Linked DNA regions of Homo sapiens. The protein of the gene in region 5 purifies or fractionates together with the protein of the main gene of each other region. This does not show direct contact. Each region holds a gene or a part of one and is shown on either strand. Other genes may lie near its edges. The genes, in order: NOP58, HAT1, SLX4, PUS7, NMD3, GFPT1 and SDAD1.

Region 1 (3,500 bases), on a different chromosome or scaffold from region 5:
TCTAGCCACATTTTTTTCCAACGAAAATGGGGTCCTTATATTTTTTAGAAATATATTTATTAGAAAACTTTTAGTAGGGGTGTATTGCTGGAGATGAAATAAAATGTGAGAGTGGAAAGAAAGACTAGGAAAATAGCCTCCCAAATACAGAAAGCAGAACAATTCGGGCGGGGCGCGGTGGCTCACACCTATAATAATCCCAGCATTTTGGGAGGCCAAGGTAGGAGTATCACGAGGTCAGCAGATCGAGACCATCCTGGCTAACACAGTGAAACCCTGTCTCTACTGAAAATACAGAAAATTAACCGGGTGTGGTGGCAGGCGCCTGTAGTCCCAGCTAATTGGGAGTGCAGTGGCGCAGTCTCACAGCTCACTGCAGACTTGACCTCCTGTTCTCAAGCAATCCTCCCTCTTCAGTAGCTGGGACTACAGGCACATGCCACCATGCTGGCTAATTATTTTATTTTATTTTATTTCATTTATTTGAGACAGAGTCTCACTCTGTTGCCCTGGCTAGAGTGCAGTGGCATGATCTCGGCTCACTGCAACCTCTGCCTCCCGGGTTCAAGGGATTCCCCTGCCTTAGCCTTCCAAGTAGCTGGGATTACAGACGCCCGCCAACACGCCCTGGCCTCCCAAAGTGCTAGGATTACAGGCATGTGCCACCACGCCCAACCTGTAATTTTTTTTTTTTTTTAAGACGGAGTCTCACTCTGTCGCTAGGCTGAAGTGCATTGGCTCAGTCTTGGCTCACTGCAACCTCCGCCTCCTGGGTTGAAGTGATTCTCCTGCCTCAGCCTCCCGAGTAGCTGGGACTATAGGCACCTGCCACCACACCCGGCTAATTTTTGTATTTTTAGTAGAGACGGGGTTTCATCATGTTGGCCAAGATGGTCTCGATCTATTGACCTTGTGATCCACCCGCCTCGGCCTCCCAAAGTGCTGGGATTACAGGCGTGAGCCACCGCGCCTGGCATAACCTGTAATTTTAAAAAGAAGCTAAATAACAGGTAGTAAAAGATCTCCTTAAACCAACTACTTGGTCAAATTATATTAATCTTTTTATAGCTTTTAATTTATATAGCCAAGCTGTCTTCTGGAAGCTTGTATCAGTTTTTACTTCCACCAGTGATACAGTCAAGTATTCTACAAACACACTGGAAATTATGCTTCTTGTCCAACTGAGAAATGCGTATATTTAAATTAGTGCCACTTTAATATTTAGGAAATAATTTCAGGCTGGGCGCGGTGGCTCATGCCTGTAATCCCAGCACTTTGGGAAGATGAGGCGGGCGGATCACTTGAGGTCAGGAGTTTGAGACCAGCCTGTACAACATGGTGAAACCCCGTCTCTACTAAAAATACAAAATTAGCTGGGCATGGTGGCTCATGCCTGCAATAATCCCAGGCCGAGACAGGAGAATCTCTTGAACCCAGGAGGCGGAGGTTGTAGTGAGCCAAGATTGCGCCACTGCACTCCAGCCTGGGCGACAGAGTGATACTGTGTCTCAAAAAATAATAATAACAACTTCAGGAAAGTCTTTTTTTTTTTAATTTAATATAGATGTTCATGTTCTTGTAGGAAAAGCTGAATCTCAGTTGTATCCATAGTCCTGTTGTTAATGAACTTATGAGAGGAATTCGTTCACAAATGGATGGATTAATCCCTGGGGTAGAACCACGTGAAATGGCAGCTATGTGTCTTGGATTGGCTCACAGGTGAGAATTACTGGAAAATAAAGTCAACTTACTTTTATTTGATAAGCGCTTAACATAGATCTGTTCTAAGAATGTTACAAATGCTCATTTGAACCACATCAGAACCTTATGAAGAAGATGATAGTAATATCCTCATTTACAGATGAAACTGAAGCCCAAGGTCAATACAGCTGGTAAGTGGTAAAGCCAGGATTTGAACCCAGGCAGTCTGGCTCTATTGTCTGGATTCTTAAAACCTTAAAACCTCATCAAAGGAATTCTCTACTACTCTGATCTTGGATGCCCTGTTTCTTGGGCTTTCCCTCCTTTATCTCTGCTAAGTCATGCCACTCCTCCATCTACTTAGTATTCCCCCAAATTCTCTCATCTGCTATGGTCTTATGGGATAGGTGTGTATTTGTGTTTTCATTGCTTTACTCTGATTTTTAATAAGGCAAAGAGGACTAGGTGCAGTGGCTCACCCCTGTAATCCCAACTCTTTGGGAGACCAGGAGTTTGAGACTAGCCTGAGCAACATAGCAAGAAATATGTCTCTCTCTGTGTTTTTTTGTTTGTTTTGTTTTTGTTTTGTTTTTTTTGAGGCAGATTCTCACTCTGTCGCCCAGACTGGAGTGCAGTGGCGTGATCTCTGCTCACTGCAGCCCCTGCCTCCCAGGCTCAAGTGATTTTCTTGCCTCAGCCTCCGAGTAGCTAGGATTACAAGCGTGCACCACTACTGCCCAACTAATTTTTGTATTTTTAGTAGAGACGGGCTTTCACCATGTTGGCCTGGCTGATCTTGAACTCCTGACCTCAAATGATCCATCCGCCTTGGCCTTCCAAAGTGCTGGGATTATAGGCATGAGCCACCACACCCGGCATTTTTTTTTTTTTTTTTTTTTTTTTGAGTCAGGGTCTCACTCTGTTGCTCAGGCTGGGGTGCAGTGGTGCGATCTTGGCTCACTGCAACCTGGACATCCTGGACTCAAACAATGCCACCTCAGCCTCCCAAGTAGCTGGGACTGCAAGTGTGCGCCACCATCCCTGGCTGATTTTTTAACTTTTTGTAGAGACGGGGTTTTGCCATGCTGCCCAGGCTGGAACTCCCAGGCTCAAGTGATCCACTTGCCTTAGCCTCCCAAAGTGCCGCGACTGCAGGGGTGAGCCACCATGCCCAGTCTTCTCCCTATTTTTAATTGCATGTTAACCCTATCATATTTCATTAGAAGTCCCTTAGAATAGGCATTATTGCTATGTTGTGATACATCTGTTCATGAAAAGCTTAATACTTTGGAATTGCACTACAGTTAACAGGGTTGTGAAGAAAATAATGGTAGGTAGTTGCTCAAAACCTGTGCAACTTTGTAATCAGTACTGTCAAATAGTAATCCTAATAAAATTATTACCACAGTTCAAAAGACATTTTAAGCTAATATTAAAAGAAACACTACAGGCTGGGCACGGTGGCTCACGCCTGTAATCCCAACACTTTGGGAGGCCAAGGCAGGCAGATCACAAGGTCAGGAGATCGAGACCACGGTGAAACCTCGTCTCTACTAAAAATACAAAAAATTAGCCGGGCACAGTGGCGGGCGCCTGTAGTCCCAGCTACTTGGGAGGCTGAGGCAGGAGAATGGCGTGAACCCGGGAGGCAGAGCTTGCAGTGAGTGGAGATCGCTCCACTGCAGTCCAGCCTGGGTGACAGAGTGAGACTCCATCTCAAAAAAAAAAAAAAAAAAGGGAGAAAGAAACACTATAGGCCAGGCGCAGTGGCTCACGCCTGTAATACATCCCAGCACTTT
Region 2 (3,500 bases), on a different chromosome or scaffold from region 5:
GGATTTGCTGGGTCAATAGGGTATTTGTATGTTTAACTTTATGGGATACTTGGCCAGACTGACTTCCAAAGTACTTTTATACTCACATCAACAGTGTATTAGAATTTTCGTTATTCCATATCCTCACCAACATTTTATGTTGTCAGTTTTTAAAGTTTTAGGCATTCTACTGGGTTTATAGTAGTATTTCTTTGTTAATAGTACTTCATAGTGGTTGTAAAGATTAAATAGGTTTTAATTGTCTTTTCCCTCATAACTAATGCTATTAAGGATTGTTTTTTTAATGTGGTTATCGACTATCTCCTTTTGGACTCATGTATTCACATCTTTTGCCCATTTTAAAATTAGGTTATTTGTCTTTTTGTTATTAGTTGTAGGTGTTATTTACCTACATATTCTGGATGAGTCCTTTATGCAGATTACATGTTTTGTGCACATTTTTCTCTCAGTTTGTGGTTTGCCTGTTCATATTCTCAACTTTTTTTGTATAACTGGAAGTTTTTAGTTTTAATCATGTCCAGTTTATTAATTTTAAAAATTTCTATTAGTGTTTTCTGGTTCATGCCTAATATCTTTGTCTACCCCAAGGAGATCATGAAGCTCTCCTAATGTTTTCTTCTGGAAGGTTTTTAGTTTTAGCTTATTAAAATTATGTCCATGATCCATCTCATGTTATTTTTCATGTCCAATATGAGGAAAGGGATTAAGGTTTGTTGTTCCATGTGGATATCCACTTGTTTCAGTATAATTTGTGTGAATGCCTTGGTGCGTTTTTAACAAAAAAATATTGAACTTACACGTGTGGATCTACATCTGGACTTTTCTCATTCATTGTCTGTTTTTCTGTCAATATCGTACTGTCTGGATTAGTGTAACTTTCTATTGATTCCTGGTAGTGTGAGTCCCACATCTTTATTTTTTAAAGATTGTTTCGATTATTCTTGACCTTATTTCTGTATACATTTTGGAATCAGGTGGTTAATTTCTATTTAAAAAGTTCTGACTAATCTTAAGATTACATTGAATCTAAAATTGAATGTGGGGAGAATTGCTATCTTAATAACATTGAGCCTTCCAGTATATGAACATGATGTATTTCTGTATTCTAGAAATGTTTCAGGTTTTCAGTCTTGCATGTATTTTGTTAAATTTATCTGAGTAAATCTACATCTTTTGATTTTTGATGCTCTTAAAAATGGTATACTTTTTTATTTATTTATTTTTGTATGTGTGACATGTTCTCACTTTGTCACCGAGGATGGAGTGCAGTAGCGTGATCTCCACTCACTGCAACCTCTGCCTCCGAGCTCAAGTGATCCTCTTACCACAGCTTCCCGAGTAGCTGGGACTCCGCATACACCACCATGCCTGGCTAATTTTTGTATTTTTTGTAGAGACAGGGTTTCGCCTTGTTACCCAGACTGGTCTTGAACTTCTGGGTTCGAGTGATCTGCCCACCTAGGCCTCCCAAAGTGCTATTACAGATGTGAGCCACTGTGCCTGACCTAAAAATGATATACTTTAAACATTTTCTCTTCCAATTGCTTGTTTTATGTGTGTGCATGTGCATATGCATGGACACACAATGGCACAGTTTGTGTAATTGTTTTGTATTCTGCAACCTTGCTAAATTCACTTATTATTGTAGTTTTTTGTATTCTGGGCTTTTTCTGAGAGAGTGGCTCACTCCATTGCCAAGGCTGGAGTAGAGTGGCGTGATTGTGGCTCACTATAGCCTTGACTTCCCAGGCTCAAGCGAACCTCCCACCTCAGCCTCCTGAATAGCTGGGACTATAGGTGCGTGCCACCATGCTTGGCAAAATTTTTTTTTTTTTCTAGGGACAGGGCCTCACTATATTGCCCATGCTGGTCTTGAACTCCTGGGCTCAAGCAATCCTCTTGCCTCAGCTTCCCAAAGTGCTAGGGTTGCAGACATAAGCCACCACACCCAGCTATAGGATTTTTTTTTTTAGATGTAGATTATTTCAGATTTCCTGCACACAAACATTACCTGTTAATGAAGAAAGTCACAGTTTTTCTTTGCCTTATACAGTTGTCCATTGGTATCTTCAGGGATTTGGTTCCACGATCCCCCGTGAATACCAAAATCTGCCGATGATCCGGTCCATTATACAAAATGCCATAGTGTGGCTGGGCATGGTGGCTCACATCTGTAATCTAGCACTTTGGGAGGTTGAGGCAGGCAGATTGCTTGAGCCCAGGAGTTTGAGACCAGCCTGAGCAACATGGCAGAACCCCATCTCTACAAAAAATACAAGAATTAGCCAGGCATGATGGTGTGCATCTGTAGTTGCTACTCAGGAGGCTGAGGTGGGAGGATCTGCCTGAGCCCAAGAGTTCTAGGCTGCAGTGAGCTGTGATTGTGCCACTGCACTCCAGTGTGAGTGACAGAGTGAGACCCTGTCTTGATAGATAGATAGCCATATAGCCGGGCATGGTGGCTCACGCCTGTAATACCAGCACTTTGGGAGGCTGAGGCAAGAGTTCGAGAAGACAAGCCTGGTCAACATGGTGAAATTCCGTCTCTACTAAAAATACAAAAATTAGCTGGGCGTGATGGCACACACCTGTAATCCCAGCTACTTGGGAGGCTGAGGCAGGAGAATTGCTTGAGCCCAGGAGGTGGAGGTTGCAGTGAGCCGAGATTGTGCCACTGCACTCCAGCCTGGGCGACAAAGCAAGACTGTGTCTCGGGGGGGAAAAACAGCCATATAGTACAGTCAGCTCTTTGTATCTGCAGATTCTGTGTTTGAGGATTCAGCCAATCTCATGTTGATCCGTAATTGGTTGAATCAGTGGATGTGGAACCTGCATATGTGGAGAGCCACTTGTGTTTCATTTTCTTGCCTTACTGCACTGGCCAGAACCTCTATTACAATGTCAAATGGAAGTGATAGAGTAGACATCCTTGCCTTATTCCCAATTGAAGAAGGAAAATTTTGAGCCTTTCACCATTCACTATGATGTTAGCTGTAGGTTTTTCATATGTGCCCTTTATCAGGTTGAGGAAGTTTCCTTCTATTCCTAGTTTGGTGAGAGTTTTTATTATGAAAGTGTTACCTTCTAATGCTTTTTCTTTATCAAGATAATCATAAGATTTTTCTCCTTTAATTCTGATAATGTGGTGAATTACATTGATGAGGTTTTAAGTGTTAAATTAGCCTTGCATGCCAGTATATTATCCTTTTTCTGCTTTGCTAGATTTGACTTGGCAATGTTTTGTTAAGACTCTTTGTTCATGACAGGTAATGGTTTCTTTTTTCATACGTCTTTGCTTGATTTTGGTATCAAGGTTTCCTGGCCTCATAAAATGAGTTGGGAACTGTTTCTTCTCTATCTTCTGGAAGAATTTGTATAAGACTGCATTATTCCTTTAAATGTTCAGTAGCATTCACCAGTGAAGTTTTATGTGCCTTGAGTTTTCTTTGTTGGAAGGTTTTTAACTATACATCTAATAAATAGATTTAATACTGTTCTGA
Region 3 (3,463 bases), on a different chromosome or scaffold from region 5:
GCGGAGGCCTGATTTTTTTTAAAAGAACATTTAACTCTCACATCCACATGACACTGCTCTTCCACTCGGGCACCCGGGGAAGCTGCTGCTGCCACCATCCCTCAGAACTGGGAGCAGCATATCTTTTGTTTATTTTTTATTTTTGGAGACAGGATCTCACTCTGTTGCCCAGGCTGGAGTAGAGTGATGTGATCTTGGCTCACTGTAGCCTCAGCCTCCCGGGCTTAAGCGATCCTACCTCATCCTCCCTAGTAGCTGGGACTACAGGTGACACCACCACGCCTGGCTAATTTTTGTATTTTTTGTAGAGGCGGGGTCTTGCTATGTTGCCCAGGCTGGCCTTGAACTCCTGAGCTCAAACTGTCCTCCTGCCTCAGCCTCCCAAAGTGCTGGGATTGTAGGCGTGAGCCATTGTGCCTGGCTGGCAATGTTTCTTTTGGAATATTCAGAGTAAGCTTAGTTGGCGCCTAGAATAGACACTAACCTCTGATGCTCACAGAAGTCAGGCATCTATGGTTTGTCACACAAGCCATTCGCTGAATGCATTGGGTATCACTCTTTGCTAAGATAGGGAACGTGGAGTGTGGACCAGCTGTGTGGGTGGGTCCTGAGATCCACCTGTTCCTCCGTCAGGTTTGGAGTCCGCCCTCTGCCTAAACGCCAGATGGTTCTGAAGCTGAAGGAGATATTCCAGTACACTCACCAGACCCTGGACTCAGACTCCGAGGACGAGAGCCAGTCCTCACAGCCGCTGTTGCAGGCGCCTCACTGCCAGACCCTCGCCTCCCAGACCTACAAGCCTTCAAGGGCAGGGGTCCATGCCCAGCAGGAGGCCACCACAGGACCTGGGGCCCATAGGCCCAAGGGACCTGCTAAGACCAAGGGCCCCCGACATCAAAGGAAGCATCATGAAAGCATCACACCCCCAAGCAGGTCGCCCACCAAGGAGGCACCTCCAGGCCTCAATGATGACGCCCAGATCCCAGCCTCTCAAGAATCCGTGGCCACCTCTGTGGATGGCAGTGACAGCTCCTTGAGCTCACAGAGGTAACCGGATGGATGCGATGGGGTCAGTGGCCTCATGTATCCTCTGGCCCGTGGGCGTGAGGGTTGGCACGAGTGAGACCTAATGGCCAATCTTCAAAAACCCCCGTCACCTTCTGGGTTTGACCTGTGGGAAAACCAGGTGGGTTTAGGGGGCTGGTTCCCTGACCCCAGCCCTGCGCAGGCCTCCTGGTTCCTGCCCCACATGCTAGACATTTCTGGCTGGGGCAGGATCCCGCTGGCGTAGCCTGCAGGGATCTCTCAGGCCCGTCCTGCCTTGCTGGGGATCGTGCCACAGGCCAGGCTCCATGGGACCCGTAGACACCTTCCTTCCTTTAAAGAGGCTCATGGTCTCAGGGGCTGGAGAGAAAGGGGTTGCACAACGTCCTGGTCTGGCTCTTTTCAGTTCTTCCTCCTGTGAGTTTGGAGCGGCATTTGAGTCTGCAGGTGAAGAGGAGGGCGAGGGGGAGGTCAGTGCCTCGCAGGCAGCCGTGCAGGCGGCGGACACAGACGAGGCGCTGAGGTGCTACATCCGCTCCAAGCCGGCCCTGTACCAGAAGGTGCTGCTGTACCAGCCCTTTGAGCTGCGGGAGCTGCAGGCAGAGCTGAGGCAGAACGGCCTCCGTGTGTCCTCGCGCAGGCTGTTGGACTTCCTGGACACCCACTGTATCACCTTCACCACTGCCGCCACCCGCAGGGAGAAGCTCCAGGGCAGGAGGCGGCAGCCTCGGGGCAAGAAGAAGGTGGAGCGGAACTGATGGGGCCATCCCGACCCCACCCCAACCTGCCATCAGCAGCCCCCACCCCCGCCATTTGCAGGGAGGACCTGGGACACCCAGCGTGGGTCAGGCCTCCACAGGCATTTCTGGGCCTGGGGACCACATCAGCTCTGCGCTGTGATGATGACCACAGCCCAATCCAGGGCTTCCTCCTCTGGGCTCTGCTTTCTAGGGTGGCATTTGGAGCATGTCACCCACTGGATTTACAGACTCCAGCCCCTTCCTCTGTCCGTGCTCACAGTGTGTCTCCCTTTTTGGTTTTCTTTTTTTTTTTCTTTTTGAGACAGTCGTGCTGTGTCACCTAGGCTGGAGTGCAGTGGCACAATCTCGGCTCACTGCAACCTCCGCCTCCCGGGTTCAAGCAATTCTCCTGCCTCAGCCTCCCAGATAGCTGGGACTACAGGCACACGCTGCCACGCCCAGCTGATTTTTTATATTTTAGTAGAAACGGGGTTTCACCATGTTGCTCAGGCTGGTCACAAACTCCAGAGCTCAGGCAATCCGCCTGCTGCGGCCTCCCAAAGTGCTGGGATCACAGGCGCCAGCCACTGCGCCCGGCCCAGTGTGTCTCCCTTAACCCAAGAGGGCCCTCAGCTGTCCCAGGGGGCAGTGGGCCATCACCAGCTGGCCAGGGCATGGCCTATTCTGCCACATTTGCCACCCTCTGAGCCCACCAGTCCTGGGCACAGCTGCCCTACATGTCTGTCCTGAGATGGACGTCAGGTCCAGCCTGCCCCGGCAGCCCGGGCCCGTCCTCCTCAGCACTCAGGCCAACCCCAGCCACCGCCAGCCTGAGACCAGGTGTCCTGAGGCTCCCTGCACTGCCACAGCCCAGATGCAGTTCTCCTGACCCAGCCGTGCTACCCGGACACTTGTCATTGTTACCAGCAGTCTCCAAACTGGACAGTGCACAAGGGCCCAGAACAACTCTGATGCCACCACAAAACAAACATGTTCACTAGCGGATTCCATTCTTTGGGTTAAAGCTGCCTCCAGCCTCAGGAGCAGTGTGGAGGAAGATGAGGGCCAGGAAAGAAGGAAACCTTGGTTTCTCCATCCTTGTGAATGTCCTCGTCTGTTTCAAATACAGTGCAGTCAGTTTTATATGATGTGCAATAAACCAAAAAGGCTTTATTAAAATCTGGCTGCCACACTCCAGGGAGACCACGAGCGAAACGGGGGACCTGGAGGCACCGTGGCCCCTCAGCCCGTGCCCCACGCCTGCAGAAGTCCCCACCTTGCACCTGCCCTTTACTTTGGAGTAACCTGGGCCTGCTGTCTCCTCATTTCAGTTCCCAGACCAGAGATGCAGATGTTCATCCATTAATCCACACACCCGTATCCAACAGAGCCCTGGCTGGGTGCCAAGCTCCAGCCCCCGCACCTCAAAGTGGGGCCCAAGCACCCCCAGCTGCTGCCTCAGCCGGGAGTTGCTACAAAAGCAGATTCAGGCCCCACCCCACAACTCACCAAGACAGCACATGCCTTTACCATTGCGTCCGGTCCAGTGGAGGAGACAGACGCTGGCCTATCCCAGCCTGGTGGGGAGTCGGGCTCCAGTGGCTTGAAGGGCCGTGTCAGGGACAGCCTCCCAGAAGAGGGGTTTGTGAGCTGCATCTTAGGGCTCAGCAGCATTTAGG
Region 4 (3,500 bases), on a different chromosome or scaffold from region 5:
AGAGTTTCGCCCTTGTTGCCCAGGCTGGAGTGCAATAGCGCAATCTCGGCTCACCGCATCCTCTGCCTCCCAGGTTCAAGTGATTCTCCTGCCTCAGCCTCCTGAGTAGCTGGGTTTACAGGCATGCGCCACCATGACTGGCTAATTTTGCATTTTTAGTAGAGATGGGGTTTCTCCATGTTGGTCAGGCTGGTCTCGAACTCCCAACCTCAGGTGATCCCCCGACCTCAGCCTCCCAAACTGCTGGGATTACAGGCATGAGCCTCCACACCCAGCTATTTTTTTTATTTTTTATTTTTTTGAGATGGAATCTTTGTTGTTCAGGCTGAAGTACAGTGGTGCAATGTTGGCTCACTGCAATCTCCACCTCCCAGGTTCAAGCAATTCTCCTGCCTCGGCATCCCAAGTAGCTGAGATTGCAGGCTTTTGCCACCACATCCAGCTAACTTTGTTGTATTTTTAGTAGTGGCGGGAATTTCACCATGTTGGCCAGGCTGGTCTTGAACTCCTGACCTCAAATGATCCGCCTACCTCAGCCTCCCAAAGTGTTGGGATTACAAGTGTGAGCCACTACGCCCAGCCCTATTTTTATTTTTATTTTGTAACAGGTAAGTCTTGGCTCAGTAAGTGATTCAACAGTAATCTGTTGGGTAACTCAGACCCAGAGTAGCCAGACAGAGATGTCACATTTTCTGATCTGTGTTAACACGTTTATTAAACTTTGATCTGCCCTTCCCTCGCTCTTAATTTTATTTTATTTTTTATTTTTATTTTTTGAGATGAAGTCTTGCTGTTGCCCAGGCTGGAGTGCAGTGGTGCCATCTCCGCTCACTGCAACCTCCACCTCCCAGGTTCAAGTGATTCTCCTGCCTCAGCCTCCCACGTAACTGGGATTGCAGGCATGCACCACCTCACCCAGCTAATTTTTGTATTTTTAGTAGAGCCGAGGTTTTGTCATGTTGGCCAGGCTGGTCTCGAACTCATGACCTCCAGTGATCTGCCCGTCTTGGCCTCCCTAAGTGCTGGGATTACAGGCATGAGCCACTGTGCCTGGGCCCCTTCCCTCACTCTTTAAAGAATGTAATAAATGATAAAATTAGTGACATGGAATTTAAGAATTGTCATTTACTTTTAAACAATTAAGAACCCCTCTAGGGTAACCTACAGTGGGAATCCCATCAATAAATAGTTGGGTTCCTAAATCTACTTCTGGAATCCTGTTGCCCAGCAGAGACTCTGTTACATAAACTAATTATTCGCGTGGGAGTTAGAATTGTGGTAGTTACAAGCTGGAAGTTATCTAAGCGTCCATGTTCTTCCTTGTCTTTCAGACCCTTCATGTTAGCAAACTTAGGCTTTGAGAGGTCTGCCTGAACTCATCAATTGCTTGGCTTTAGTTTGGGAGTAGAGTTTTCCGGGCTTCCAGTCCATTGTTTCAGCATCTAAACTATGAAGTTGCATTCATTTTTGTGATTTTAAAAGCGCAAAATGATAAAAATCTATATTTCCTCTGCCTCTTTGAGGAGGTTAAAAAGCTCAGGTGAAAACAGACTTGAGTTCTGAGGCTTAAATTACTCATCTGTAGAATGGAGATAATAATACCAATTCACAGAATGGTGAAAATGAAGTGAGATGATGTTTATGCTACATCTATTTTTATGCCTAGAATATAGTGATTGCTAATATGTTTTCAACCTTGCTAATGGTCAGAGGACATTGATAAAATAGTAAAAATGCTAATTGTATTATGGGACAGAATAAGGGAGCACTGTATCAACCTGTAAATTTGTAATTAATTTGGCAGAAGGACAGCCATGGAATCCTATACGTTGTGTATGCCAAAGATAGTGTAAATAAATATAAGTAATTAAAATGAGGTCAAATTTATCCCACAACAAAAATTACATAGCGTGACCAAAGGTCAGTACGGTCAGCTCAAAATTCCAAATCATTCATTTTCACAACATAAGAATATTTCCTGCTTTCAAGGAAACGCACTGTTAACACCATAGAATTTCCTGAGGGAAAAAACAGACTTTCAGTTTATATTGTATAGGTGGAGAAATGACTTGTATCCAAAATATTAAAAGCTCTTACAACTCAAGAACAGAAAGACAACGCATTCTAAAACTTAGCAAAGGGTCTGAACAGACCTTTCTTTAAATAATGTAATCAAATGGCCAATAAGCACACAAAAAGATGCTTATCACTAATCTTTAGGAAATGCAAATCAAAACCACAGTGAGATGCCACTTCTTACCCACTAGGATGGCTAAAATAAAAAAGGCAGAGAATAACAAGTGTTAGGATTAGAGAAATTGGAACCCTTATACATTCCTGGTGGAAATGTAAAATGGTATAACGATTTTGGAAAATAGTCTGACAGTTCCTCAAAAGGTTATAAAGTTAGCCTATGACCCAGGCATTTCTAGGTATATACTGAGGACAACTGAAAATCATATGTTCACACAAAAGTTTATACAGATGTTCATAGCAGCCAAAAGACTGGAAACAACCCAAATGTCCACCTACTGATGAATGGATAAACAAAATATACAATGTAATATACAATAATATACAGTGGAATATTACTTAGCAATAAAAAGGAATGAAGTACTGATACATTCTGCAACGTGAATGAACCTTGAAAACATTGCTAAGTAGGCAGGGCACAGGGGCTCATGCCTGTAATCCCAACAATTTAAGAGGCCAAGGCGGCAGGATCACTTGAGGCCAGGAGTTCAAGACCAGCCTGGGCACCATAGCAAGGCCCCATCTCTACAAAATAAAATTTTTAAAAAATTAGCTGAGTGTGCTGCTGCCTGGCTTTGGTCCTAGCTACTCAGGAGGCTGAGGCAGGAGGATCACTGAAGCCCAGGAGTTTGAGGATGCAGTGAACAGTGTACCACCACTGCACTGTGGCCTAGATGACAGAGCAAGACCCTGCCTGTGAATGAATGAATGAATCAATTTCTATGAAATTTCCAATGTGAGCAAATCTATAGAAAAAGAGCTGGAACAGGACCAATGGGGAGTGACTACTAATGGGACAGGATTTTTTTTTGGTGGGGGTGGGTAATAAAAATGTTGTAAAATTGTGTAATGCTCCACAGTTCTTTAAAAATACTAAAAGCCATTGAATTGTACACTTACATGGGTGAATTATATGTTATGTGAATTATTGAATAACTCAGCAAAAACTTTGAAAAAAAGAAAGTGAGCCAGGCACAGTGGCTCACGCCCGTAATCCCAGCCCTTTGGGAGGCCGAGGTGGGTGGCGGATTGCTTGAGGTCGGGAGTTCAAGACCAGCCTGGCCAACATAGTGAAATCCCGCCTCTACTAAAAATACAAAAATTATCTGAGTGTGGTGGCATGAACACCTGTAATCCCAGCTACTCGGGAGGCTGAGGCAGGAGAATTGCTTTAGCCCGGGAGGCAGAGGTTGAAGTGACCCAAGATTGTACCACTGCACTCCAGCCTGGGCGACAGAGTGAAACTG
Region 5 (3,500 bases):
AGAATAGAACATTTCTGTCGTGGCATGAAATTCTGTTGGACAGTACTGACCTTCTAGAACCTTTAGGACATCGGCCTTATATTGAGGATTTTTAGAATTATAGCCATTTTTGGTGTTTTTGCCCCTGTATTACAGGGTTATTCTTTATCTACTGCATCTTTGAAGATTGCTTTGTTTCTTTTTTTTGTTTCTTTTTTTTGAGACATTGTCTTGGTCTGTCACCCAGGCTGGAGTGCAGTGGCGTGATCTGGCTCACTGCAACTTCCACCTCCTGGGTTTGATATGCATGCCTCAGCCTCCCAAGTAGCTGGGATTACAGGCGTGCGCCACCATGCCTGGCTAATTTTTGTATTTTTAGTAGAGATGGGGTTTCACCATGTTGGCGAGGCTGGTCTTGAACTCCTTATCTCAGGTGATCTACCCGCCTCAGCCTCCCAAAGTGCTGGAATTACAGGTGTGAGCCACTGGCTGGCCCAGGTTGCTTTGTTTCTGTTATTTTTTTGAAAAGGGCAAAGATGCTGTGGCCTAACTTGAAGGCTTTTGTTTGTTTGGCATCTAAAAAAAAATTTAGTGTATTTTAAAAATCTAATGTGAAAAATTTATCCTTTATTTATTAAAGCTTGTGCTGTGAGTGTGGTGTTCCGATAAGTCCAAATCCTGCCAATATTTGTGTGGCCTGTTTGCGAAGTAAAGTGGACATCAGCCAAGGTATTCCGAAACAAGTCTCGATTTCGTTCTGCAAACAATGTCAAAGGTACAGTGCGGTACAATTTTGCTCTTTTTAAAGTTGGAATTTACATTTAGAGAACCACCGAGATATGCTGAGATTACACGAAGGTATATGGAGTAAAGTGCATGCAATTAAGGTTTAAATTTTCTGTTGGTGTCGCCAAAGATTTTAGAATTTGCAATTTTATAGTGTACTTTTCTAGTGTGTCCTTCTAATCTGGTAAAGATAGTGTAAATGTATTTGAATCTGTTCTTCTGTTAAAGGATCTAATAGATTTGATGTATATAGTTAATAGGAGTTGATGTTTGTAAGGGTGAGAGCAGATTATTGAGGACATATTGTTATTATGAGGTTTTTTTTTCTTTAGTTATTAGAAGCCATGTATGATAAAAAGCTTATGTTTGGAGTAATTTAGTAATATGTTTTAAAAACTCATAACATTCACGTGTAATTAAAATAACTATTGTTGATGGAAAAGAAGCTCAATAAATTATATCTGGAATGGTCTGAAATAAAGATTGGATTTGAAGGAAGAAGACTTCTTCTGAATGTTAATGTTTCATTCCTCTTGATTTTCTTTGTCAGCATAAACAACTTACATCTATTAGGCCATTGAGTAACACAAAACTGCCTAATGAGTGTAAAAGTGTATGCCTGTTATTTCCAAAATGGATTAAGACGCTAACTTTTTGAGTGTGTATCTCTAGAGGGGTGGTTCATGGACTCCTTTGAGAATTTGAAAACTGTATCTCTTCCCCAAAATATTTACATACATGTATATATATGTGTGTGTGTGTGTATATATGTAAAAATATATATGTGTGTGTGTGTATATATACATATATATACACAAACACATGAAACTGTGTACTGTTTCAGGGAGTTTACAGTGTATAAGCTTAGCAAGTGTGAGGCTTAATCTTTTATAAATATTTGCTATTAAAAGCCTGGTGGAGTTAGAAAAGTACTGATAAAGAACTAAACAGACTTAGTTTGTCTTGGCTTCCTCACAAACTAGCTGTTTGAAACTCTTAGCTGTTTATCATCTCTGGGCCTCAATTTCCTCATCAGAATGAAGGGTTTTATTAGGTGATATGTGAAGCCCTTTCTAACTCTAAACGTTTACTCATAGGCCAGGCTTGGTGGCTCACGCCTGTAATCCAAGCACTTGAGGAGGCTGAGGCGGGTGGATCACCTGAGGTCAGGAGTTCGAGACCAGACTGGCCAACATGGTGAAACCCTGTCTCTACTAAAAATACAAAAATTAGCCAGGCGTGGTGGGGCACGCATGTAATCCTAGCTACTCGAGAGGCAGGAGAATCGCTTGAACCCGAGAGGCAGAGGTTGCAGTGAGCCGAGATCATACACTGCACTCCATCCTGGGGGATGGAGCGAGACTCTGTCTCAAAAGAAAAAAGGAAAAAAAAATACGAAATAAATATGTACTTATAAACAAAGGGAGACCTGTGTAATGTTTTTGATTGAACCTTGAAAAGTGAAAGTCAAAACTTTCTGTTATGTAACAAGTATGGCAAAAAGACATTCACATAACATGTTTGGAAGTATTTTATATTTAGCAAGCATTTATTGAACACCTACTATAAGATGTATGTGGCATAGTGCTAAGTCCTGGGTAGGCAGGACTAAAAACCTTAAAGCACATATGTAAGAGATTTAAGTTTTGTTTTAGTCTGGTTTTACCCAAGATTTTAAATGTTGTTTTACAATTTACAATTTGAAAAGGACTTGAAATGTAGATGAATAGACTGAACTATTGCTGATTTATAGTGTTGTGAGGTACTAATGTACCTTTTTTTTGTGAAAAATAAGCAGTTCTCAGGCATTTTAGAAGTACATAATAAACCATTTTAATGCCATTTTGAGATGATTCTCACCTGTTTTTCAGAGCATAGCTTTAAGAGACTCTTGGACATTTTAGTGGTGATTTGGTGATTAAAGTAATAAGATCACTTTAGTAGGTTATTTCAGATTGACTTTCTCAGTCAGAATTTTACCTTTTTAATTAAAGCTGCTAGTCTAGTTGAAAGTTTTGGAACCATTAAAATATGTTTGAGTTAAGTGCTTCATATCATCCTTGGGTTTTATTATGCCTGGTTAATAATTTGGGTTATATCTGTGTATTCAGATGGAAATTTCTGTGTTTCCTGACAGATGTTGGATTTCAGTATGTTATCTTCTCTTTTAGGTATTTTCAACCACCAGGAACTTGGATACAGTGTGCTTTAGAATCCAGGGAACTTCTTGCTTTGTGCTTGAAAAAAATCAAAGCCCCTCTGAGTAAGGTAAGTTAAACAGCTAAAATCAGTATTCATAGGTATGTTTTCATTAAAGGTCTCATTTTCAGAAAATTCTTGTGAGTAGGTTTTTCAAAAGGAATTTTTTTTTTTTTTTTTTTTTTTGAGGTGGGGTCTTGAACTGTCACCTGGGCTAGGCTAGAGTACAATGGTGTGATCTCGGCTCACTGCAACCTCTGCCTCCCGGGTTCACACGATTCTCCTGCCTCAGCCTCCCAAGTAGCTGGGATTATAGGCGCACACCACCACATCTGGCTAATTTTTTGTATTTTTAGTAGAGACAGGGTTTCACTATGTTGGCCAGATTGGTCTCGAACTCCTGACCTCGTGATCTGCCTGCCTCGGCCTCCCAAAGTGCTGGGATTACAGGCGTGAGCCACCATGCTGGCCTCGAAAGTAACTATTAAATGTTACTATTGTTGCCAGTAGCACCCCACTACAAACACTTTTTAAAG
Region 6 (3,500 bases), on a different chromosome or scaffold from region 5:
CTGACTCCTAGTCTCTGAGCATCTCTACACTGAACTATGACAGCCAAGGAGAACTCATCTATCCTATCCATTTCGGTCCACTTTCGGATGGGCCCTCCGAACTGCTGACCAATCCTATTAATTCATCACTTGCTTAACTTTCAAACTTCTCCCAGATATTATTTTAGAGTCTAAGCTACATACTACTCTCAAATCCTCATTTTCTCTTCCCAGCTTCTTTTTCATTTTTGGTAGATTCTTACTTTATAGAATTAAAGTCTTTTTTTTTTTTAGACAGAGTCTCGTTCTGTCACCCAGGCTGGAGGGCAGTGGCGCTATCTCAGCTCACTGCAACCTCCACCTCCTGAGTTCAAGCGATTCTCCCGCCTCAGCCTCTTGAGCAGCAGCTGGGATTACAGGCGTGTGTTACCACGCCTGGCTAATTTTTGTATTTTTAGCAGTGACAGGGTTTCACCACGCTGGCCAGGCTGGTCTCGAACTCCTGACCTCAGGTGATCTGCCCGCCTCGGCCTCCCAAAGTGCTGGGATTATAGGCGTGAGCCACTGCGCCTGGCCAGAATTAAAGTCTTCATTTTCTTTTTTTGTTTTTAAAATATAGAGACAAGGTCTCAATATGCTGTCCGGGCTGGTATCAAACTCCAAGCCTCAAGTGATCCTCCCACCTCAGCCTCCCAAAATGCTGAGTTCACAAGCATGAGTCACTGCCCCTCACCCATCTTCTTTTCAACAGTTTAACAATATATAAATACTTCTCATCCTTCCTTGTAATCTCAAGAGAGACATATTACACATACTACTCTCTGAAGCTAGCCTCTCCCCTACTTGTAACTTTTTTTTTTTTTTTTAACAGTCCTGCTCTGTCACCCAGTACCCAGGCTGGAGTGCAGCAGCACAATCATAGCTCACTGCAGCCTCAAACTCCTGGACTCAATCCTCCCACCTCAGTCTTCTAAGTAGACTGGACTACAGGTATGCACCACCATGCCTGGCTAATTTTTTTTTTTTTAATAGAGATGGGATCTCACTATGTTGCCCGGGCTGATCTTGAACTCCTAGCGTCAAGCAATCCTCCTGCCTCAGCTTCCTGAGTGGCTGGGATTACAGGTGTAAGCCAAAACACTGGCTACTTATAACTCTTTTTTTTTTTTTTAATTGAGACAGAGTGTCACTCAGTCACCCAGGCTGGGGTACAGTGGCGTGTTCTCAGCTCACTGCAACCTTCACCTCCCAGGTCCAAGCACTTCTCCTCCCTTAGCCTCCCAAGTAGCTGGGATTACAGGTGCGTACCACAACAGCTGGCTAATTTTTGTATTTTTAGTAGAGATGGGGCTTCGCTATGTTGGCCAGGCTGGTCTCAAACTCCTGACCTCAAGTGATTCGCCCACCTCAGCCTCCCAAAATGCTGGTATTACCAGAGGGAACCCCACACTGGGCCTTACTCCTAACTCTTGATGAGTGTTTCTCCAACTTTGTAAATACAGAACTCTTTTGTTAACATCAAAATATTCTGAGGCTCCTTCACAACAATGGGTTAAATTTTTATTATTCAATGATCTAGAACAATCTTTATTCAACTTACAGACAAAGTTATAAGCATATGAATAAGCAATGAACACCCTGTAACAACTTCAGGGCTTGTAGGTCAGGAACCACAGCTCTAGAATTCAACTTCTCAACACTCCCAGGGGACCTCAATCCCAAAATCCTCTTCTTTTTCATATTACTTGCAGCCCTCCTCCTAAACACAAACTGAGACCCTTCTGCCTTGACATATGCAATTTCTCTAATAATTTCTTCATAACCATATCCAATTAACTTCTCTGCAGTATTACATATGAATGACCTTTTTCTACTTTTATAGACTCTGTTCAAGGCAATATACTACTTTGGAACTCTTCTGCCTTTAACCACTGTTCCTTGGTCTGTTTTCCTGGCACTTCTATTTCCTCCTTCATCTGGTAGTAGTTCTCAAACTATTTCCGCCTCCATTCACTGACGGTTAACATATGCCATTAATGATTACCTCTCACAGTATACTAATACTCTACAAGTTGAGTAAAAGTCCTGCCCCATCACCCAGAACATTCCTGAACCTAACACAGAAACCCAAACCCCAGAGCTCTCCAGTCTCTAAATTTCTACTCATTCTACTTGTGGTCTATGACATGGCAATGAACAAGGACTGTGTATTTTCACCTGAAGCTGTTGCATGTGCATTCATTTTCTTTCCTCTGATCAGGCAGCAATTTCTTGAAGGCAACTCTCTTATTTTAGTCATCTCTGCAAAGGGCAGAGTGCCAAGTATAAAGCCATCATTTCAAATACCTGCAAGTATCTTCTAACACTTTCTAGGCACCTGAAATATACGGTCAAAAAATTCTCAAACCACAGAAACAGAACACTATTTCACCGGATGCTAAAAAGGAATGAAGTAAAGAAAGGTTTCATAATTAAAGGTTTAAGAACTACCTGGTTAAAGTTAGGTATATATTTAGAACTTTCTGGAACCTTTAATCTTGCTAATTGTGAATCTCCAAGAGCAGAATTTCCCAAACTTGTGTTACAAAACCCTTTCCCGCCTTCTACTGCTCATTACCAGAACCTATTAACCTCCATTTCCAGGGGACAATTGAAGAAATGCTTATTAAGCAATTATTTTCTCTCACAACTTCTTCATATCCAGTATATGTAAGGATATGTTAATAGTACTGGTTTTATGACCAATCCTAGCAGCCAATCTCAGCATCCCTCAATTATCTCCAAAGCCATTAGACAGTATAATTACAAAAAACTTTTGAAAAATTCATTTTAGGATACTTTAAAATTGCAAGTTCCTTTACTGCTTTTAAAAAGGATCTCATTTGCAAACATTCCATTTATTTATTTATTTATTTACTTATTTATTTATTTATTTTGAGACAGTCTCTCACTCTTGTCGCCCAGGCTGGAGTAGAATGGCACTATCTCAGCTCACTGCAACCTCCACCTCCTGGGTTCAAGAGATTCTCCTGCCTCGGGCTTCCGAGTAACTAGGATTACAGGCATGCGCCACTACGCCCGGCTAATTTTTTTGGATTTTTAGTAGAGACAGGGTTTCACCATGTTGGTCAGGCTGGTCTCAAACTCCTGACCTCAGGTGATCCACCCACCTCAGCCTCCCAAAGTGCTGGGATTGCAGGCGTGAGCCACCGCGCCCATCCCCAAAATTCCATTTTATATACACCGTCGAATCAGAAGGGTATAACTTCACATTTATAAAAACAATAGCAAAATCTGTTAAAAGCTAGGGATAGCTTAAGTGACTTGACACTCAGCAAAACCAAAAATAATGCAAATAAAAAGGACAAAGTATATTCCAAACTACCAAGAAAAAGGAAGATAAAATAAATTTGGAAAATAGACACACTATTCTTCTCTGGGAGATTCTCAATGCTTATTATTAATACATTAAAGATTCCAAGAAATCCTCCAATCAAAAAACAAAACAAAACATTACCACG
Region 7 (3,500 bases), on a different chromosome or scaffold from region 5:
CCTGTAATCCCAGCACTTTGGGAGGCCAGGGTGAGAGGATCACTTGAGGCCAGGCGTTTGAGTCCAGCCTGGGCAACATAAAGAGATCCCGTCTCTACAAAAAATAAAAATGAAAAATCAGCTGGGTATGGTGGTGAACGTCTGTGGTCCCAGCTACTTAGGAGGCTGAGGCAGGAGGACCTCTTGAGCCCAGGAGTTTGAGGTGGCAGTGAGCTATGATTGTGCCACTGCAGTCCAGCTTGGGTGACAGAGGGAGACCTAGTCTTTTTTTTTTTTTTTTAAGGTACCAAAACAGATACATAGACCAATAGAATAGAACAGAGGCTTCAGAAATAACGCCACACATCTACAACCACCTGATCTTTGACAAACCTGACAAAAACAAGCAATGGGGAAAGGATTCCCTATTTAATAAAACGTGTTGGGAAAACTGGCTAGCCATATGCAGAAAGCTGAAACTGGACCCCTTCCTTACACCTTGTACAAAAATTAAATCAAGATGGATTAAAGACTTAAACAAGAGTCCTAAAACCATAAAAACCCTAGAAGAAAACCTAGGCAATACCATTCAGGACATAGGCCCGGGCAAGACTTAATGACTAAAACACCAAAAGCAATGGCAACAAAAGCCAAAATTGACAAATGGGATCTAATTAAACTAAAGAGCTTCTGCACAGCAAAAGAAACTATTATCAGAGTGAATAAGCAACCTACAGAATGGGAGAAAATTTTTGCAATCTATCCATCTGACAAAGGGCTAATAGCCAGAATCTACAAGGAACTTAAACAAATTTACAAGAAAAAAAAAACCCCATCAAAAAGTGGGCAAAGGATATGAACAGACATTTCTCAAAAGAAGACATTTATGCGGCCAACAAACAGTGAAAAAAAGCTCATCAGCACTGGTCATTAGAGAAATGCAAATCAAAACTACAATGAGATACCATCTCACGCCAGTTAGAATGGCAATCATTAAAAAGTCAGGAAACAGCAGATGCTGGAGAGGATGTGGAGAAATAGGAACTCTTTTACACTGTTGGTGGGAGTGTAAATTAGTTTAACCATTGTGGAAGACAGTGTGGCAATTCCTCAAGGATCTAGAACCAGAAATACCATTTGACCCAGCCATCCCATTACTGGGTATATACCCAAAGGATTATAAATCATTCTACTGTAAATACACATGTACACATATGTTTATTGCAGCACTATTCACAATAGCAAAGACTTTGAACCAACCCAAATGCCCATCAATGATAGACTAGATAAAGAAAATATGGCACATATATACCATGGAATACTATGCAGCCATAAAAAAGGATGAGTTCATGTCCTTGCAGGGACATGGATGAAGCTGGAAACCATCATTTTCAGAAAACTATCACAAGGACAGAAAACCAAACACCGCATGTTCTCACTCATAAGTGGGAGTTGAACAGTGAGGACACATGGATACAGGAAGGGGAACATCACACATTGGGGCCTGTTGGGGTGGGGGGCTAGGGGAGGGATAGCATTAGGAGAAATACCTAATGTGGATGACAGGTTGATGGGTGCAGCAAACCACCATGGCACATGTATACCTGTGTAACAAACCTGCACATTCTGCACATGTATACCAGAACTTAAAAGTATAATTTTTAAAAAGGGGTGGCAGTGGGGGGGTGGGATTTTGACTGGAGAGCTTCATGTACTTGAGATATAATTTATATTTCTGCCCTGTTATTTTTCTGCTGATTTGAGTGCTCTGCATACATGGATATGGTAGTAGGGGTCATTTATTTTTATTTTTATTTTGTGAGACAGGGCCTCCGTGTTGCCTAGGCTGGAGTGCAGTGGCATGATCATAGCTCACTGCAGTCTCAACCTCCCTGGGCTCAAGTGATCATCCCATTTCAGCCTGTTGAGTAGCTGGAATTACAGGTGCACGCCACCACACCCTGCTAATTTTTGTATTTTTTGTAGAGACAAGGTCTCCCTGTGTTACCCAGTTTGGTCTCGAACTCCTGGGCTCAAGTGATCCTCCCACTTTGGCCTCCCAAAGTGCTGGGATTACAAGTGTGAGCCACTACACCCAGCAGTCGGGATCATTTAGATAGTAACTGGCAGAACAGGGCTACAATCTGAATTTGGGATTCATGCTTCTCTGTTCTTACACCATGCTGCCTAAACTTGTAGTGATAATTCCAAGGAAAAGTTCTTTAGATTATCTGTGATGTGCTCAGGTCTTTAAAAAGCGCACTTTGAAGAATGCAGATAAGGCAAAAGGAGTGTTTTTATATACTTTTGCATTATCTTTTTCTCCATGTGATCGTCAACAGTTTCTACTAAGAATTTCTCTACTGAATGTCTGTACTGAGAAAGTCATGTAATACAATGTGACAAACTTAAATTTTATTTTTCTGCAGTTTCTACAGCAGTATAATCACTACAAATCCAATGTGGAGATTTTCAAATTGCAACCAAATAAACCCAGCAAAGAACTAGCAGAGCTGGTGATGTTTATGGCACAGGTAAGAATATAATTGCTTAAATAAAGACCAGTATTAACACACAGTTTGCTGAATGTTTTTTCACTAATACTCAACCTTATTCCACTCTGGAATGGGAACTTAATTAAAATATTTTTCTAACTTTCCCTTTTTGCAAATTTTATTTTCTCCCTATCATGAGTTAGAGAATGTCACTAGATCTTTTTGCATAACTAACCAGGACAAAACTTTAAGACTATTTTTTTTCTTCAAATTCATCATAAAAGCAGGTACTAAATCATGCCATAAATATTACTAAGACTAGAGAAACCATGATAAATGTTGGAGAAATTAACATGTAGAAGGAAAAGAAGGTTGTTTGGAACCATCTACTTCTATGAAACATAGCCTTTTACTCTCGTTTTGCAGAACATCCTAAATGTATGCATCTGAATTATAGGAGAGAAAGAGAGCAACTTCAGAAGAGCCTTTGCTTTGTTACAGATTAGTCACTGCTACCCAGAGTACCTAAGTAATTTTCCTCAAGAGGTGAAAGATCTTCTCTCCTGCAATCATACCGTATTGGATCCAGATCTGCGAATGGTAGGACCAGTAGTTGGATGAATAAATTGTGCTGTGTTCATGTGTGCTGCGTTCATATATATTTAAATGAGAACAGCCTCTAAGCTAATTATCTTCAGAAAACGTAAATTATAATGTATTATCCTTTCCTAAAAATCCTTCTATGGCTTCTCATTTATACTTAGAGTAAAACGGAAACTTAATAACCTGGCTCAAAAGTGCCTGCATGATCTGCTTCCAGCCTGTGTTTCTGATATCATATTGTTTTCAGCTACACTGTGATCTTTCTATTCTTCCAGCACACTAACCCTACAGGATGCTCTTTAACCTTTTGAGATGATTTCTTCTAGTCATTCAAATCTCATATGCATGTAGAATCCTAATCACAACTTGTCATTTTTATAATGCCTTAAATTAGTAAACTTACCCATTAGACAGTCAGTTTGA

The links.
Region 1: the proteins of NMD3 (region 5) and NOP58 fractionate together in Homo sapiens (co-fractionation; one large-scale study listed by BioGRID). This does not show direct contact.
Region 2: the proteins of NMD3 (region 5) and HAT1 purify together in Homo sapiens (affinity purification with mass spectrometry; one large-scale study listed by BioGRID and IntAct). This does not show direct contact.
Region 3: the proteins of NMD3 (region 5) and SLX4 purify together in Homo sapiens (co-immunoprecipitation; one large-scale study listed by IntAct). This does not show direct contact.
Region 4: the proteins of NMD3 (region 5) and PUS7 fractionate together in Homo sapiens (co-fractionation; one large-scale study listed by BioGRID). This does not show direct contact.
Region 6: the proteins of NMD3 (region 5) and GFPT1 fractionate together in Homo sapiens (co-fractionation; one large-scale study listed by BioGRID). This does not show direct contact.
Region 7: the proteins of NMD3 (region 5) and SDAD1 fractionate together in Homo sapiens (co-fractionation; one large-scale study listed by BioGRID). This does not show direct contact.

What each region holds. Positions count from the first base shown.
Region 1 is NC_000002.12:202,282,763-202,286,262, forward strand, and holds part of NOP58 (nucleolar protein 58), read left to right. Parts: intron 1-1,582; coding exon 1,583-1,719; intron 1,720-3,500. UniProt on the Homo sapiens protein: Required for the biogenesis of box C/D snoRNAs such as U3, U8 and U14 snoRNAs. Part of the small subunit (SSU) processome, first precursor of the small eukaryotic ribosomal subunit.
Region 2 is NC_000002.12:171,928,961-171,932,460, forward strand, and holds part of HAT1 (histone acetyltransferase type B catalytic subunit), read left to right. Parts: intron 1-3,500. UniProt on the Homo sapiens protein: Histone acetyltransferase that plays a role in different biological processes including cell cycle progression, glucose metabolism, histone production or DNA damage repair. Coordinates histone production and acetylation via H4 promoter binding.
Region 3 is NC_000016.10:3,580,681-3,584,143, reverse strand, and holds the end of SLX4 (structure-specific endonuclease subunit SLX4), read left to right. Parts: intron 1-633; coding exon 634-1,047; intron 1,048-1,450; coding exon 1,451-1,802; 3' UTR 1,803-2,963; downstream 2,964-3,463. UniProt on the Homo sapiens protein: Regulatory subunit that interacts with and increases the activity of different structure-specific endonucleases.
Region 4 is NC_000007.14:105,477,272-105,480,771, reverse strand, and holds part of PUS7 (pseudouridylate synthase 7 homolog), read left to right. Parts: intron 1-3,500. UniProt on the Homo sapiens protein: Pseudouridylate synthase that catalyzes pseudouridylation of RNAs.
Region 5 is NC_000003.12:161,224,311-161,227,810, forward strand, and holds part of NMD3 (60S ribosomal export protein NMD3), read left to right. Parts: intron 1-619; coding exon 620-754; intron 755-2,936; coding exon 2,937-3,033; intron 3,034-3,500. UniProt on the Homo sapiens protein: Acts as an adapter for the XPO1/CRM1-mediated export of the 60S ribosomal subunit.
Region 6 is NC_000002.12:69,380,728-69,384,227, forward strand, and holds part of GFPT1 (glutamine--fructose-6-phosphate aminotransferase [isomerizing] 1), read right to left. Parts: intron 2,357-3,500; exon of another isoform or gene 2,279-2,356; coding exon of another isoform or gene 2,197-2,278; intron 1-2,196.
Region 7 is NC_000004.12:75,980,946-75,984,445, reverse strand, and holds part of SDAD1 (protein SDA1 homolog), read left to right. Parts: intron 1-2,408; coding exon 2,409-2,513; intron 2,514-2,900; exon of another isoform or gene 2,901-2,975; coding exon 2,976-3,074; intron 3,075-3,480; exon of another isoform or gene 3,481-3,500.